4 linked regions of the Homo sapiens genome follow. The protein of the gene in region 1 interacts with the protein of each later gene in a pairwise test. Each region holds a gene or a part of one and is shown in the gene's direction. Other genes may lie near its edges.

Region 1 (4,270 bases):
AATAAAAGCTCAATATCACTGAACATTAGAGAAATGCAAATCAAAACTACAATGAGATACCATCTCACACCAGTCAGAATGGCTCTTCTTAAAAAGTCAAAAAAGGACAGATGCTGGCAAGGGTGTGGAGAAAAAGGAGCACTTACAGATTATTGGCGGTGGTGTAAATTAGCTCACCCATTGTGGAAAGCAGTGTGGTGATTCCTCAAAGAGCTTATAACAGAACTACCATTAAACCCCGCAATCCCATTACTGGGAATGGTGTATACACTACTGTATACACAGAAGAATAGAAATTATTCTGCCTTAAAGACATATGCATATGAATGTTCATTGCAACACTGTGCACAATAGCAAAGACACAGAATGAACCCAAATGCCATCAAGGACAGATTGGATACAGATAATGTGATACATATACACAATGGAATACTATGAAGCCCTAAAAAAGAATGAGTTCATGTCTTTTGCAGGAACATGGATGGAGCTGGAGGCCATTATTTTTAGCAAACTAATGCAGGAACAGAAAACCAAATACTGCATGTTCTCACTTATAATTGTGAACTAAATGATGAGACTCATGGACACCAATAGGGGAACAACACACACAGAAGCCTACTTGAGGTTGGAGGGTGAAAGGTGAGATAGGAGCAGAGAAAATAACTATTGGGTACTACGCTTAGTACCCAGGTGAAGAAATCATATGTACCACAAACCTCATGACATGACTTTATCTGCATATGTACCCCTGAACCTATAATAAAAGTAAAAAAAAAGAAAAAAGAAAAAAAATCTCATCTTTCTCCCAGAATCTGCAGGAGAAACAATATCTCTGAAACTTTGTTTTACATGGACTCCAAGACAAAGCAGAGAATGCAGCTAGAGCCCAGGTATGTGACAGACAGATGAGAGTGACCCTCACCTGGCAGATCCAAGGGGCCTAGTGTGAGGCAGGTTCATGCAAGAACTATCTCTACTTCTCTTCCCAGATCCTCCTGAGGATCAAGGTCAAAAGGATCTGACCCTTAAAGGCCCTCCCAGAACCTTTAAAGGCAAAGAGAAGAATTACCTTCTAGGTCTAACGTCTTTTTCCAAAATTCCCAATTTTTTATTTTTAGTCATTGTACAAATTGAGGAAATGTACACCTTCTGGCTAGATTCTGCATACTGGAGAAAAAGCTTGAGAGGCACAAAGGCTGGGCTTTACAATCCCTACCCCTCACTCCATCATCCTTATCTATGCATTTCCCTGGTAACCCAATCCACAGCCTGGTACCTCCCCCACTGTCATTTCTGCTGCATTACAGACACAGACCTGCAAACATCTATGGTTGTGACAGAGTTTCTTTCTGACACCTGAGTCTTTCTCCTGCTGCACGGAAAGCTTGCTGGGAGGGGCTTGGAATCTGGCATGAAGCCAAAGGGCATCTCTGAGTTGCAGCATTTAAATGATCCCACTCAGAGATTCACACAGAAGACTGGACACAATTCCGAAGAGCTGCCCAGAAGGAGAGAACAATGTCATCACTACCCGTGAGTTGAAAAGTCACAGCCTTCAATAATCTCAAGTCACATAAACCAAGAAAGAAACAGGGGAGGTTTTCTGAGTTGAAAATATGAGCATTCCTACTGTGAATGCATTACCGAGAGTTGTGGGTGTGTAGAAGAGAAACCCTGAGGCTGTGGTATCTGAGATGATTGTGGGTGTAGGCTGTGGACCCTGGACCAGTGTAACCCTCTGTGAGGGTGTGGTGGTGTCTGATGAGAGTGAACTCTGCTGAGATTAAGTGACTTTAGGTGGGAGGTGGATGACCCACCAGGACCGGCAAGTGTGTGAGTGAGTGTAAGGGGGTGAGTGTGCTTTGTCTTCCTGTCTGTGATGTGAGTGTGTGTGGGCACAGCCAGACCAGTGCATGGTCATCTTTATGTGCACAGTGAGCAGGTGTGTGTAACTCAGTGAGTGGCATGGCTCTGTGTGACTATGGGTGTGTGTGCTGGGATGTGACTGGGTATTGAAGGGAAAACATGCACGTGGCCTTCTGTGCATGTGAAGGTTCCTCCCCACACAGCAGCACCTCTGATGAAGCACCTGTGTGTCTTTTCATGTGTGGCAATGTGGATCCCAAGTGGCTTAACTGGTGGGGATCTTGGGGATTGTGAGTTACCAAGGACTCGTTTCAGATCACTTATGAGAGCGAAATATATCATCAGTAGATATCTCTTCCCAGTAAGAGTGAGGAAAAGGAACGCAGATTATGGGAGAGATGGTTCCTCAGGTGGGGACTGCACAGAGTGATCACTGGCTTTTGCCTCCCAGGCTCAGCTTCCCTGTCGCTAGCCCAGCCTGTTCTTCCCATTGTGGAACAGGCGAGTGTGAAGATACTGATTTGCCAGGGAAGAATATTAGAGGCCGTGGTTAAAGAGACGGAATCAAACAAAATATCCACTGTAAGCTCTGTCTGAACTGAGACTAAACTTGTTCCTCCACTCATGAAAGAACAAGCTGTCTGAATTCAGACAGTGCTTACTGTGGACATTACTCAACAAAGCAGCTGGGTTCACTGGTTCATGACTATAATCCCACCAATTTGGGAGGCAAAGATGGGAGGGTAACTTGAGGCCAGAAATTTGAGACCGGTCTAGGCATCATAGTGATATGCTTTCTTTAAAAATCTTTAAATATCTGACTGGCAGAGTGGCAGACACCTTTCACCCCAGCTACACAAGAGGGGGCAGATGTGTGAGGATCACTGCAGTCCAGGAGTTCGATGTTTCAGTGAGCTGTGATTGCACCACTGCATATCAGCCTGGGTGACAGAGCAAGACCCTATCTCAAAAATACAGAAAAATCATCAACCACTTGCAGTCGTCGTAGAAATCAATCATTCCCTCCAGTTATGTCCCTGACCCACAGGCTTCATTTGTGCAAGTACTGGGGCTGTGCTGTCAGTAATGTGTGCCGCTTCTGGGAAGGACGTCCATTGCCCTTGATGATTGTGGTGCGTGTACATCCCACACACAGGGGTTTCCTGTTCTTTCGTCATTTCCCTTTCTCTTTCAACAAGTGTTGTTTCTCACTGGAGTGAATTTTTAAATTCTTTCACCCTCAAGTCTTGTTTTCATTTTCTGAGTTGAAAATAAGGCAGGTCAGTGTTTCAGGAGGACTCCCCTGTTCTGTTAGGTCACCCCTAATTGACCCTATACATGCCAGGGATTAGGGTAAAAGTTTTACCTATATTAACTCCTCTATTACTGAGAACACCCTACAAAGTAGGAATTCCTGATAGTCCTCCTTGTCCTGGGGAAACTGAGGCAGGGAGAGGTTAAGTAATAGATCTAAGATTGCACTGCTAGTATAAGGCAAAATGAGGACTGGAATCCAGGCATCCGGGCTCTTGAACAATTGCTCTTACCTATGGATCCACCATATCTTCAGGAATATGGGGCCCTGACTGTGGTAGGGTGAAAGGGGAGAGGCCTCAGAGTCTGACCTTTGATCTCTAACCTCCTGCACCATGGGAATCTGTTACATAGGGGAGGTTACACCTTACCCTTTAGCTCTCACTCACTCTCCATACCCTGGCAGGTACCATACACACTGCCTGTTTCCTTGCCTGTTGGTTCGTGCGTGATAATCACAGGGACACCGATCCTCACTTTTGTGTGAGTACTCCATGGTCCAATGGAGGGGGTGGAGGAGAGAAGGGAGAATATTTGCTAAGGGTTTAACCTTATGTGTGAGTGATGTGGAAAACTCTAGTTGGCATAATGAAGGCCTCATGCAAGTGCAGGCCCTGGAGACCTTCCAGCAACAGACATGAGACCTGTAGAAACTGCATGCAGGCCAGCCACGGAACCTAGGGGAGGAGAACACTCAGTGGGTTTGGGTTGTGGCTCTTTATTAAAGGGCATAGAATTTTCAGGAAATGAACAAGTCATAGGCCCATGTCACTGACTGGCGCTCAGTTTTTGTCTGGGGATGAGGAACACAGCATCTCCCTGCCTGGGGGCATGAGGAGCTAAAGCGTCCCCACAGGGACCAGGACTGCAGTATCATCGGGGAGACTTTTTGCCCTGGGTAAAGGGGGGAAGGGATTTGTGTGTGTGGCGAGTGTGTGTCTGCACAATGGGGGGACCTGCCCAACATGCTGTGTGCTTTGACCTCAGCAAGGACCCACAGCTGGAGGTGAATTTCTACACTGGGATGGATGAGGACTCAGATATTGCTTTCCAATTCCGACTGCACTTTGGTCATCCTGCAATCATGAAC
Region 2 (3,008 bases), on another chromosome or scaffold:
CTTCTACACATGGACCCTCAGACCTTGCACATCTGTTGTTTCCCTTGCAGGGCAGTGATGATGACATGAAATGAGGTGGGGTCACTCCTGTTTAGGGATGAGACTGGGGCCCAGGGAGGGGCAGGTGTGAAGTTGCTGAGGGCAGAGGGAGACCCAGGGCTACCTGCTCCTAATGACCAGCCTCACGTTCTCCACTGCTCACTCCCTGCTGTTCACCAGCTGCATGACCTTGAGCAGTGCACTCAACTGTAAACAGAGGTGAAAACACTCCTTTACCAACTGTTTTAGGGGCCACTCTTGTTTGAGGCCTTGAACCTCCTTTCAGTTCCGTGGTGGTCCTGAGCCTCTGAATCTGGGTATGGCCCCTGCTGGGTCCTGGTCTCTTAGGCAGCACGATGGCCTCCCTGCTCAAGGCCCTGCACCCAGGGGCAGATTGTGGGAGGCCCACTGGCCATGGCTGGGCCCTATCGCAGAGAGCCTGTCAGCACGGCCATTTCCACACCCAGGCTGGCTGGGAAGCAAGCTACGAGGTGCTCAAAGGCCCTCTATGTCTGCAGGTAGCCCCGTCCCACACAGGCGAGGATCGTTGGGCCTCCTTAGTAGCCAAAGGAACTGAGGTCCAGAGCAGGGAATGTGTTGCCCAGTGTCAGCATGGTCTGCTCTGGGGTCAGGCGTCTTGCCCTGGTCCTAAGCCACCCCAAGCCAAGGCATGTCCCTGGGCCCATTTCCTCTCTCGAGGTCTTGGGTTCCCTATTTCTGATGTGTGTGAAAGGAAGGCCTGTCCTCTGGGGTGACCATGAGGCTCAGTGGGAGGAGCTGCCAGGCTTGAGCTGGGACTTGGCACCTGGCCAGCCTTTTTTCTATTTCATTGTACCTTGATGGGCTGTCAGTTCTGAAGAGAAAAAATACACTAGGAATCCATTCTTCCTCCACCATTCTCCCTGGCAGAGGGAAGTGACTACACCCCTATGGTGTGGACATACTGACGCTCCTCCATGAAGCAGCAAAGTTCTGTTGTTTCAGGAGACTGTGGGCCTTGAGGATGTGGTAGTGACCTCACCAGAGGAGTTGGCAATTCCTAAGTGCTGCCTGGAGGCCTCTACAGAGACATAATGTTGGAGAACTTCTGCCACATGGCAGTGCTGGGTAAGACCCCTCTGTCCCCACCAGTGCCCTTGAGGTTATGGGTGTTGGTAGGTCTGTGGCCTCCATCTCCATGACGATGGTGTTAAGGACTGCATGTTTGTGTCCCCCCCCAAAGTTTATATGTTGAAACCCTGACCCCCAGGAGGGTGGTATTAGGAGGTGGGGCCTTTGGGAGGTGACTAGGCTTAGGTGAGATCGTGAGGGTGGGGCTCGCCGATGAGATCGAGTCCTTATAAGAAAAGGAAGGAACTAGAGCGAGGTCACTTTGTGCTGTGTGAGCATACAAGAAAACTGCCATCTTCAAGCTGGGTGCAGTGGCTCACGCCTGTAATCCCAGCACTGGAAGGCCAAGGCATTAGGATTGCATGAGTCCAGGAGTTCGAGACCAGCCTAGGCATGATAAGACCTTATTGCTAAAAAAAAAAAAAAAGGAAATAAAATAGAAAATTGCCATCTGCAAATGAGAAAGCCTTCAGCCGACACCAGACTGCCAGTGCCTTTGATATTGGACTTTCAGTCCCCAGATCTGTGAAAAATTAATTTATGTTGTTTAAGACACCTAGCCTGTGGTATTTTGTTATCGCAATCAAAACTGACTGAGACAGGCAGTAAGGAGAGAACAGAGGTTCCAGCCTGCTTCAGGTCCAGGCAGTTCTGCCATTGCCCCTAACTCCTCAGTGCCAGTCATGGGCCAGGCCCCTGGGGGACTTGGAATGAGTAAAACATGCACCTATTGTTAAGGTTCACCTGGTCCAGAAGGGGAGGCAGACCCACCTGCCCACCATGACCCGGACAGAGGCAATAAATACGGAGCACCTCATGGCCAGGGCCTGGAGGATTCCCACCATACCCTACCCAGCGCCAATAACAGAGGGACCCTGGAGTTGTGTACGCAAGATAGCAGTTCAGTGCTTGCACACATACTAGTTGAGAAGGGAAATCAGGGCTAATGAAACAGCTCAACTGTCTGGCAGAGCCAGGCTCCTTCTGCCATGATACAGTTTGGATGTTTGTCCCTTTCTAATCTTATATGGAAATTTGATCCCCAGTGTTGAAGGTGGGGCCTGGTGGGAAATGTTCCTGTTATCGGGATGGATCCTTCATGAATAGCCTGGTGCCATCTTTGTGGTAACAAGTGAGTTCTCACTTGATTAGTTTCTGTGAGAACTGTTTGTTAAAAAGAGCCTGGTGGCACCTCCCTCCCTTCTTCCTCCTGCTCTTGCTATGTGATGCTGCTGCCCTTTGCCTTCCGTCATGAGTGGAAGCTCCCTGAAGCCCCCACCAGAAGCAAATGCTGGCACCATGCTGCTTGTACAGCCTGCAGAACTGTGAGCCAAATAAACCTCTTTTCTTTATAAATTACTCAGCCTCAGGTGTTACTTTATAACCATGCAAACAGACCAAGACATGCCATGTGTATTTCATGAAGGGAGCCACAGGGTTGAAGATGTTACAGGACACCTGCTCTAATCCCCACCACTGTGTCTGCCTCCCCACCACTGTGTCTGCCTCCAGAAAGCACACCACTTCTGCTCCTGTCCCTCGAGCCAGGTCCCAGTCATATGAGTACAACTAGTTACAAGGGGTCTGGGTAGCATGATTGTAGAGGATGGGTGAGTGAGTATAGGACTCATCTAGCAGTGCAAGTCAGCCCAGGCCTTGTGCCTTCATGCCCTCTCCAGCAATTATGTCTGAGCTCCTCCAGTTTCTGTAAGGAGAGAGCAGAGTTTCCAGCCTGCTTCAGGTCCGTGAAGTTCTGTGTGCTGCGCGGATGTGGCAGTGACTTCACTAGAGGAGTTGGCAATTCCTAAGCCCTCCCCAGAGGCTTCCACAGAGACATAATGTTGGAGAACTTCTGCCTC
Region 3 (3,500 bases), on another chromosome or scaffold:
CAAAATCTGGCAGAGACAGAACAAAAAAGGAAAATTTCAGGCCAATATCCCTGATGAACGTCGATGCAAAAATCCTCAATAAAATACAGCAAACTGAATCCAGCAGCATATCAAAAAGCTTATCCACCATGATCAAGTCAGCTTCATCGCTGGAATGCAAGGCTGATTCAACATATGCAAATCAATAAACATAATCCATTACATAAACAGAATCAATGACAAAAACCACATGACTATCTCAATAAAGGCAGAAAAGGCCTTTGATAAAATTCAACACCGCTTCATGCTAAAAACTCTCAATAAACTAGGTATTGATGGGATGTATCTCAAAATAATAAGAGCTATTTACGACAAACCAACAGCCAATATCATACTGAATGGACAAAAGCTGGAAGCATTGTCTTTGAAAACCGGCACAAGACAAGGATGCCCTCTCTCACTACTCCTATTCAACATAGTATTGGAAGTTCTGGCCAGGGCAACAAGGCAAGTGAAAGAAATAAAGGGGATTCAAATAGCAAGAGAGGAAGTCAAATTGTCTCTGTTTGCAGACGACATGATTGTATATTTAGAAAACCCCATCGTCTCAACCCAAAATCTCCTTAAGCTGATAAGCAACTTCAGCAAAGTCTCAAGATACAAAATCAATGTGCAAAAGTCACAAACATTCCTATACATCAATAATAGACAAACAGAGGGCCAAATCTTGAGTGAACTCACATTCACAATTGCTACAAAGAGAATAAAATACCTAGGAATATAACTTATAAGGGATGTGAAGGACTTCTTCAAGGAGAGCTACAAACCACTGTTCAAGGAAATAAGAGAGGACACAAACAAATGGAAAAACATTCCATTGTTATGGATAGGAAGAATCGATATCTTGAAAATGGCCATACAGCTGAAAATAATTTATAGATTCAGTGCTAACCCCATCAAGCTACCATTGACTTTCTTCACAGAATTAGAAAAAATACTTTAAATTACATATGGAACCAAAAAAAGAGCCCATATATCCAAGACAATCCTAAGCCAAAAGAACAAAGCTGGAGGCATCATGCTACCTGACTTCAAACTATACTACAAGGCTTCAGTAACAAAAACAGCATGGTACCGGTACCAAAACAGAGAGATAGACCAATGGAACAGAACAGAGGCCTCAGAAATAATGCCACACATTTACAACTATTGGATCTTTGACAAACCTTACAAAAACAAGCAATGGGGAAAAGATTCCCTGTTTAATAAATAATGCTGGGAAAACTGGCTAGCCATATGCTGAAAACTGAAACTGGACCCCTTCCTTACACTTTATACAAAAATTAACTCAAGATGGATTAAAGACTTAAAGGTAAGACCTAAAACCATAAAAACTCTAGAAGAAAACCTAGGCAATACCATTCAGGACATAGGCATGGGGAAGACTTCATGACTAAAACACCAAAAGCAATAGCAACAAAAGCAAAAATTGACAAATGGGATCTAATTAAACTAAAGAGCTTCTGCACAGCAAAAGAAACTATTATCAGAGTGAACAGGCACCCTACAGAATGGGAGAAAATGTTTGCAATCTATCCATCTGACAAAGGGCTAATACCCAGAATCTACAAAGAATTTAAACAAATTTACAAGAATCAAACAAACAACCCCATCAAAAAGTGGCCAAAGGGTATGAACAGACATTTCTCAAAATAAGACATTAATGCAGCCAACAAACATGAAAAAATGCTCATCATCACTGGTCATTAGAGAAATGCAAATCAAAACCACAATGAGATACCATCTCACGTGAGTTAGAATGGCGATCATCAAAAAGTCAGGAAAAAACAGATGCTGGAGTGGATGTGGAGAAATAGGAACGCTTTTAGATTATTGGTGGGAGTGTAAATTAGTTCAACCAGTGTGGCGCTTCCTCAAGGATCTAGAACTAGAAATACCATTTGACTCAGCAATCCCATTACTGGGTATATACCCAAAGATTATAAATCATTCTACTATAAATACACATGCACACATATGTTTATTGCAGCACTATTCACAATAGCAAAGACTTGGAACCAACCCAAATTGCCCATCAATGATAGACTAGATAATGTGGGACATACGCACCATGGAATACTATGCAGCCATTAAAAAGGATGAGTTCATGTCCTTTGCAGGGACATGGATGAAGCTGGAAACCATCATTCGCAGCAAACTGACACAGAAACAGAAAACCACACACCTCATGTTCTCACTCATAAGTGGGAGTTGAACAGTGAGAACACATGGGAACATCACACACTGGGGCCTGTCAGGGGGTGGGGGGCTAGGGGAGGGATAGCATTAGGAGAAATACCTAATGTAGATAGATGACAGGTTGATGGGTGCAGGAAACCACCATGGCACGTGTATACCTATGTAACAAACCTGCACGTTCTGCACATGTATCCCAGAACTTAAAGTATAATAAAAAAAGAAAACTCTAGAAAAGAAGGAAAACTTATTGTATTTACCATATTTTTGCTTACAATGCTATATCTTCCTTCTTAATATTCCAAATTCTTTCTTTTATGATTTTCTTCTCTTTAGACAACTTCTTTTAGCTATTCTTTAAGGGTAGGTCTGCTAGTAACAAATTATTTTCATTTTCCCTCATCTGAAAATGTGAATTTCCCTCCATTCCTAAAGGATAATTTCACTGCATATAGAATTTACAGTTGACAATTATTTTCTTTTAGTACTTAAAAAATAGTATCCTAGTTCCTTCTGGGCTTCATGATTTGTAATGAGAAATCTGTTGTCATTTGAATTGTTATTCCCAATAATTAATGTTTTTCTTGCTGCTTTGAAAATTTTTAGTTTGTCTTTAGTTTTAAGAAGTTTGACTCTGATTTGTCTGGTAATGGATTTCTTTGGGTTTATATTGTTTGGGATATGCTCAGCTTCTTGAATATGTATGTTACCAGGTTTTACTAATTTGGGAAACTTCTCAGCCATAATTTTTTTGAATATTTTTTCAGCTCCATCCTCTTTCTCCTTTCCTTCCAGGACTCTGAACATGAAAGCTAGATATGTGGTGTACACCCACAAACCCTTAAGCTCTGTTTAATTTTTTCTAATCTATTTGTTTCTGATATTCAGATTATATACTTTATTTTATTCTATCTTTAAGTTCATTAATTCTTTCCTCTGTTCTCTCCATTCTGCTTTTTAGCCCACTCCTTGAGAGCTTTGTTGTTTTGGTTTGGTTTTTGTTTCTTTGTCTTGTTACTGTCCTTTTCAGTTCTAAAATTTCCATTTAGGTATTCTTTATGTCTTCTATTTATTTGCTGAGACTTTCTATTTTGTCATTGAGACAATGTGTTTTTACAGTCTCCTTGCAACTTCTTGTTGAAGTATTTATGATGGTTGTTTTATACACTTTATCAGATAATTCTAACATTTCTATTATCTTGATGTTGTCATCAATTAAGTGTTTTTTCTTATTGGTTGAGATTTTTGTTGTTCTTGGAATTATG
Region 4 (3,500 bases), on another chromosome or scaffold:
GAAGTTGCAACAGTGCTCAGAAGTATTATAAAATAGAAATAAATCATTTCCAAAAGAGAGATTTCATTTTTGCCCAAAATCTTTCTTCTAAGCTATAAAAGACAAAACTGTTCAATACACAGTTTTGTCAATTTAAATCTACATATTCACCCAATTTTTATAAGATAAAATAAAAATGTATAATTATTGAAAAAAGAATTGAGAGCCCAGAAACAGAGCTAAGGAAATATGCGACTTTAGTGTATGACAGAGGTGGCATGTCATATCAAGAGGAAAGGAGGAAATGTTTGAGAAATGAAGCTTGAAAAAAAAATAGTTATTTAATTAAGTCGGATTCCCTACCTCACATCATATACAAATATCAGCTGAAGATGGATTAAAGGCTTTAAAAGTGAATCAACATTTTAAAAACTTTTGGTAGACTATGTTGGTAAACATTTTAATCCTTGAGGTATAAAAAGACAAGACACAAAGTGTTTTCTATAAAACTTTTGATAAATTTGATTATATTCTTAATTTCAATTTATTATATTTTTCAGTTCTAGAATTTGATTCCTTTTTTTCAGTTTCAAGTTCTCCAGTAAACTCTCAATCTTAATTCCTTGAATATATTAAGTATAGTTACTTTAAATTATATGTCTGAAAACTTCATTATTTGGATCCTTTGTGGTATGTTTTTATTGCCTGTTGCTTTCTTTTAAAAAAAAATTTTTTATTTTGCCTCCTCATATGTGTGGTTATTTAAGATAAAATACCAGTCATTTTCTGTGAAAAAGAGTAAAGATTTTAGGCCTACAATATTATCTCCCTGCAGAAAATTTTCTTCTGGCTAGTGGCCGGGTACACTAGCAATCCCAGGTCACCTAAAATCAGTGAATGATTTAGGTTATTTGAAGTTGGGCTTTCATCCCTGAAATCTGATATGTTTCCAGTTCACCCTTACTCCTAGGGTATAGCTCTTTCAGACCTCAAATCCCCCAAAGCCTTGGGTATTTATCAGATCCCACATCCTTGGCAAACTCTCAACTCCTTTATTTTTTCCCTATAGTTTATTGAGAGTTCATCTCAATCTTCTTAACCATCTCTTAGAAAATTGTCAGGCTATATTCAGATAAAAGTGGCCTCTCATTCTGAACTGTGGGTTTTCTTCTCTCATATCTTGGTCGCATGGTTTTTCATGACCTTGTTAGCTCTCTAATGTCATTAGAGAAATTTTGTTTCATATTTTGTCCACTTTATTCTCATGGTTGAATTGGTCCAGTTTACAGATTATCATCTATCATTACCAAAGTAGAACTTCTTTTTATTAACGTTTACTTTATGCTTTCTTCAGTAACTTGTAAAAGTATCTAAATGTTTGGTTGTTCAATAGGACTTTAAGTAATTCTTCAGTCATTTATGTTAATTGAGAAAATGTATAATAAATATCACTACTAGGTTCAACACCTAGTGGAGATACATCAGACATCCCTTCTGACTTCATTTGAAACTTTGTCTAATAGGATAGAAGAGGCATACATAAATGATTATCATGTAAGATTTTAAAACTTTTAAGGGCATAAGAAAGGTATAGGTCAAGTCTTGCACTGATTTAGAGAGGAGAAATATTCCCTCCATTGCAGAGGATGAAGTTAGGCTTTATAGAAAAGAAGCTTTGAGCTGGGGTTTCAGCCTTACACTGAATCTTGCATTGGGTAAAAACGGGTATCTGTCATGATTCTTGCCTGTCAGTAGTTTTTAACCATGTTGTGCAGAGATGAAAGTAATTCTGATGCAGTAGTAATTGTATTTCCACACATTGAGAAGATTCAAAGCAAAATCTCATAAACAGTGATTTTTTTTGAGAAGTAAGTAGAATTTCTTCCCTGTAGTAGAACTATTATGTGACTAAATGTTTTTGAACTTTGGCTTATTGACCAGTTTGTTTATTTTTCTTTTATGTGCCATTTAAAAATATTTAAAATAAACTTTTATTGAGATACAATAAAATCTACCCGAATATGTCCTGCTACATAACCACAATCAAGCTATGGAACATTTCCATCACCCCCTAAAATTTCCCTGGTCCCCTTCTCGCTCAGTTCCCTACCCTGCCTCTGCCTCAGGCAATTACTAATCTGCCTTCTGTCACTGGAGATTAATCTTTTCTAAAACTGCATGTAAATGGAAGCATACAGTATACTTTTGTATCTGGTTTCTTTTGCTCAACATGGTTTTGAGATACATTCATTTGGGAGTGTATACCCATAGCTTGTTTTTTTGTTTTTTTTTTTTTTTTGAGATGGAGTCTTGCTCTGTCGCCCAGGCTGGAGTGCAGTGGCACAATTTCGGCTCACTGCAAGCTCTGCCTCTCGGGTTCACCATTCTCCTGCCTCAGCCTCCCAAGTAGCTGGGATTATAGGCGCCCGCCACCACGCCTGGCTAATTTTTTGTATTTTTAGTAGAGGCGGGGTTTCACCGTGTTAGCCAGGATGGTCTCGATCTCCCAACCTCATGATCCACCCACCTCGGCCTCCCAAAGTGCTGGGATTACAGGTGTGAGCCACCACGCCTGGCCAGTTTGTTCTCTTTTATTGCTGAGTTTATTCCATTGTAGGTCTATACCACACTTTGTTTATCCATTCACAGAGTTCACATAGGTTTGTTTTTAAACTTACCAGGAACATCTAGCTACAAATTTATCTTTTTTGCATATTGATTACTCATCTTTGCAATTGAGAGACACTAATATCTTGAATGCTACATTTATAATGCTGTAAAAATGGATTTTGAAGAGGTAGCTCTCATATTGCCTACACAATAGTGCCAGTAGAGTATGCTGCTGTAACACAAGTGTTGGTATCATAACATTTTGACCTTTCAGTTGTACAGAGTACAGATGTGTTTTTATGCACTGTTTCAAAGATTAAGCATAAGAATGCTAATACTGGGATACTTATAAATGTTGTGATAGCTAAGTAGACTCTCAATGTCATTAAATAAAAACAGTACAAAATACATTATCAGTTTTATTAGTTATTGCCTGTAAAATAAGGAATTTGGGCTTAACTATGTTTCTAAATTTAGTGTTTCAAAATTTAATACTTTGCAAAGTAAAATTGTTATGTAAATAATGTGCATGTCTTGCTTTTTAAAAATATGACTTATTGCTATAGCTTATGGCATTTGAAAAGGCAATATTTTCTTTTGGAACTGGATTTCTGGTTCAAATACTAATTTAACAAACTATTATACTATATTCTATCATGAGCTTTTCTAGTTTTATAGAACTGTAAAATTTTTAATTAAAACATTTTTTAAGTTTGCACGTAAAATTTCTTATGGAAACTAGCTATCTTAACATTTTTTTGTTTCTTGGTATTTCATCCTTAAAATGTTGATCCACATTTAGTAGATACTCTTGTGTATGTCATTTTTATGTACAACACATGTACAATTTTCTAATAGATTTCAATTTTTAAAAGCATAGGCTCTAAATTTAATGACTTGAGTTCACATTT

What was found. Proteins that work in one complex are often made in the same cells at the same time.
Region 2: the proteins of LGALS14 (region 1) and JRK interact in binary tests that used the Homo sapiens proteins (3 or more experiments, as listed by UniProt).
Region 3: the proteins of LGALS14 (region 1) and POF1B interact in binary tests that used the Homo sapiens proteins (3 or more experiments, as listed by UniProt).
Region 4: the proteins of LGALS14 (region 1) and REL interact in binary tests that used the Homo sapiens proteins (3 or more experiments, as listed by UniProt).

What each region holds. Positions count from the first base shown.
Region 1 is NC_000019.10:39,703,011-39,707,280, forward strand, and holds the start of LGALS14 (placental protein 13-like), read left to right. Parts: upstream 1-1,470; 5' UTR 1,471-1,518; coding exon 1,519-1,533; intron 1,534-2,694; exon of another isoform or gene 2,695-2,897; coding exon of another isoform or gene 2,898-2,999; intron 3,000-3,586; coding exon 3,587-3,663; intron 3,664-4,167; coding exon 4,168-4,270.
Region 2 is NC_000008.11:142,656,960-142,659,967, reverse strand, and holds the end of JRK (jerky protein homolog), read left to right. Parts: 3' UTR 1-1,023; coding exon of another isoform or gene 1,024-1,113; 3' UTR 1,114-2,508; downstream 2,509-3,008. UniProt on the Homo sapiens protein: May bind DNA.
Region 3 is NC_000023.11:85,310,166-85,313,665, reverse strand, and holds part of POF1B (protein POF1B), read left to right. Parts: intron 1-3,500. UniProt on the Homo sapiens protein: Plays a key role in the organization of epithelial monolayers by regulating the actin cytoskeleton. May be involved in ovary development.
Region 4 is NC_000002.12:60,912,574-60,916,073, forward strand, and holds part of REL (proto-oncogene c-Rel), read left to right. Parts: intron 1-3,500. UniProt on the Homo sapiens protein: Proto-oncogene that may play a role in differentiation and lymphopoiesis.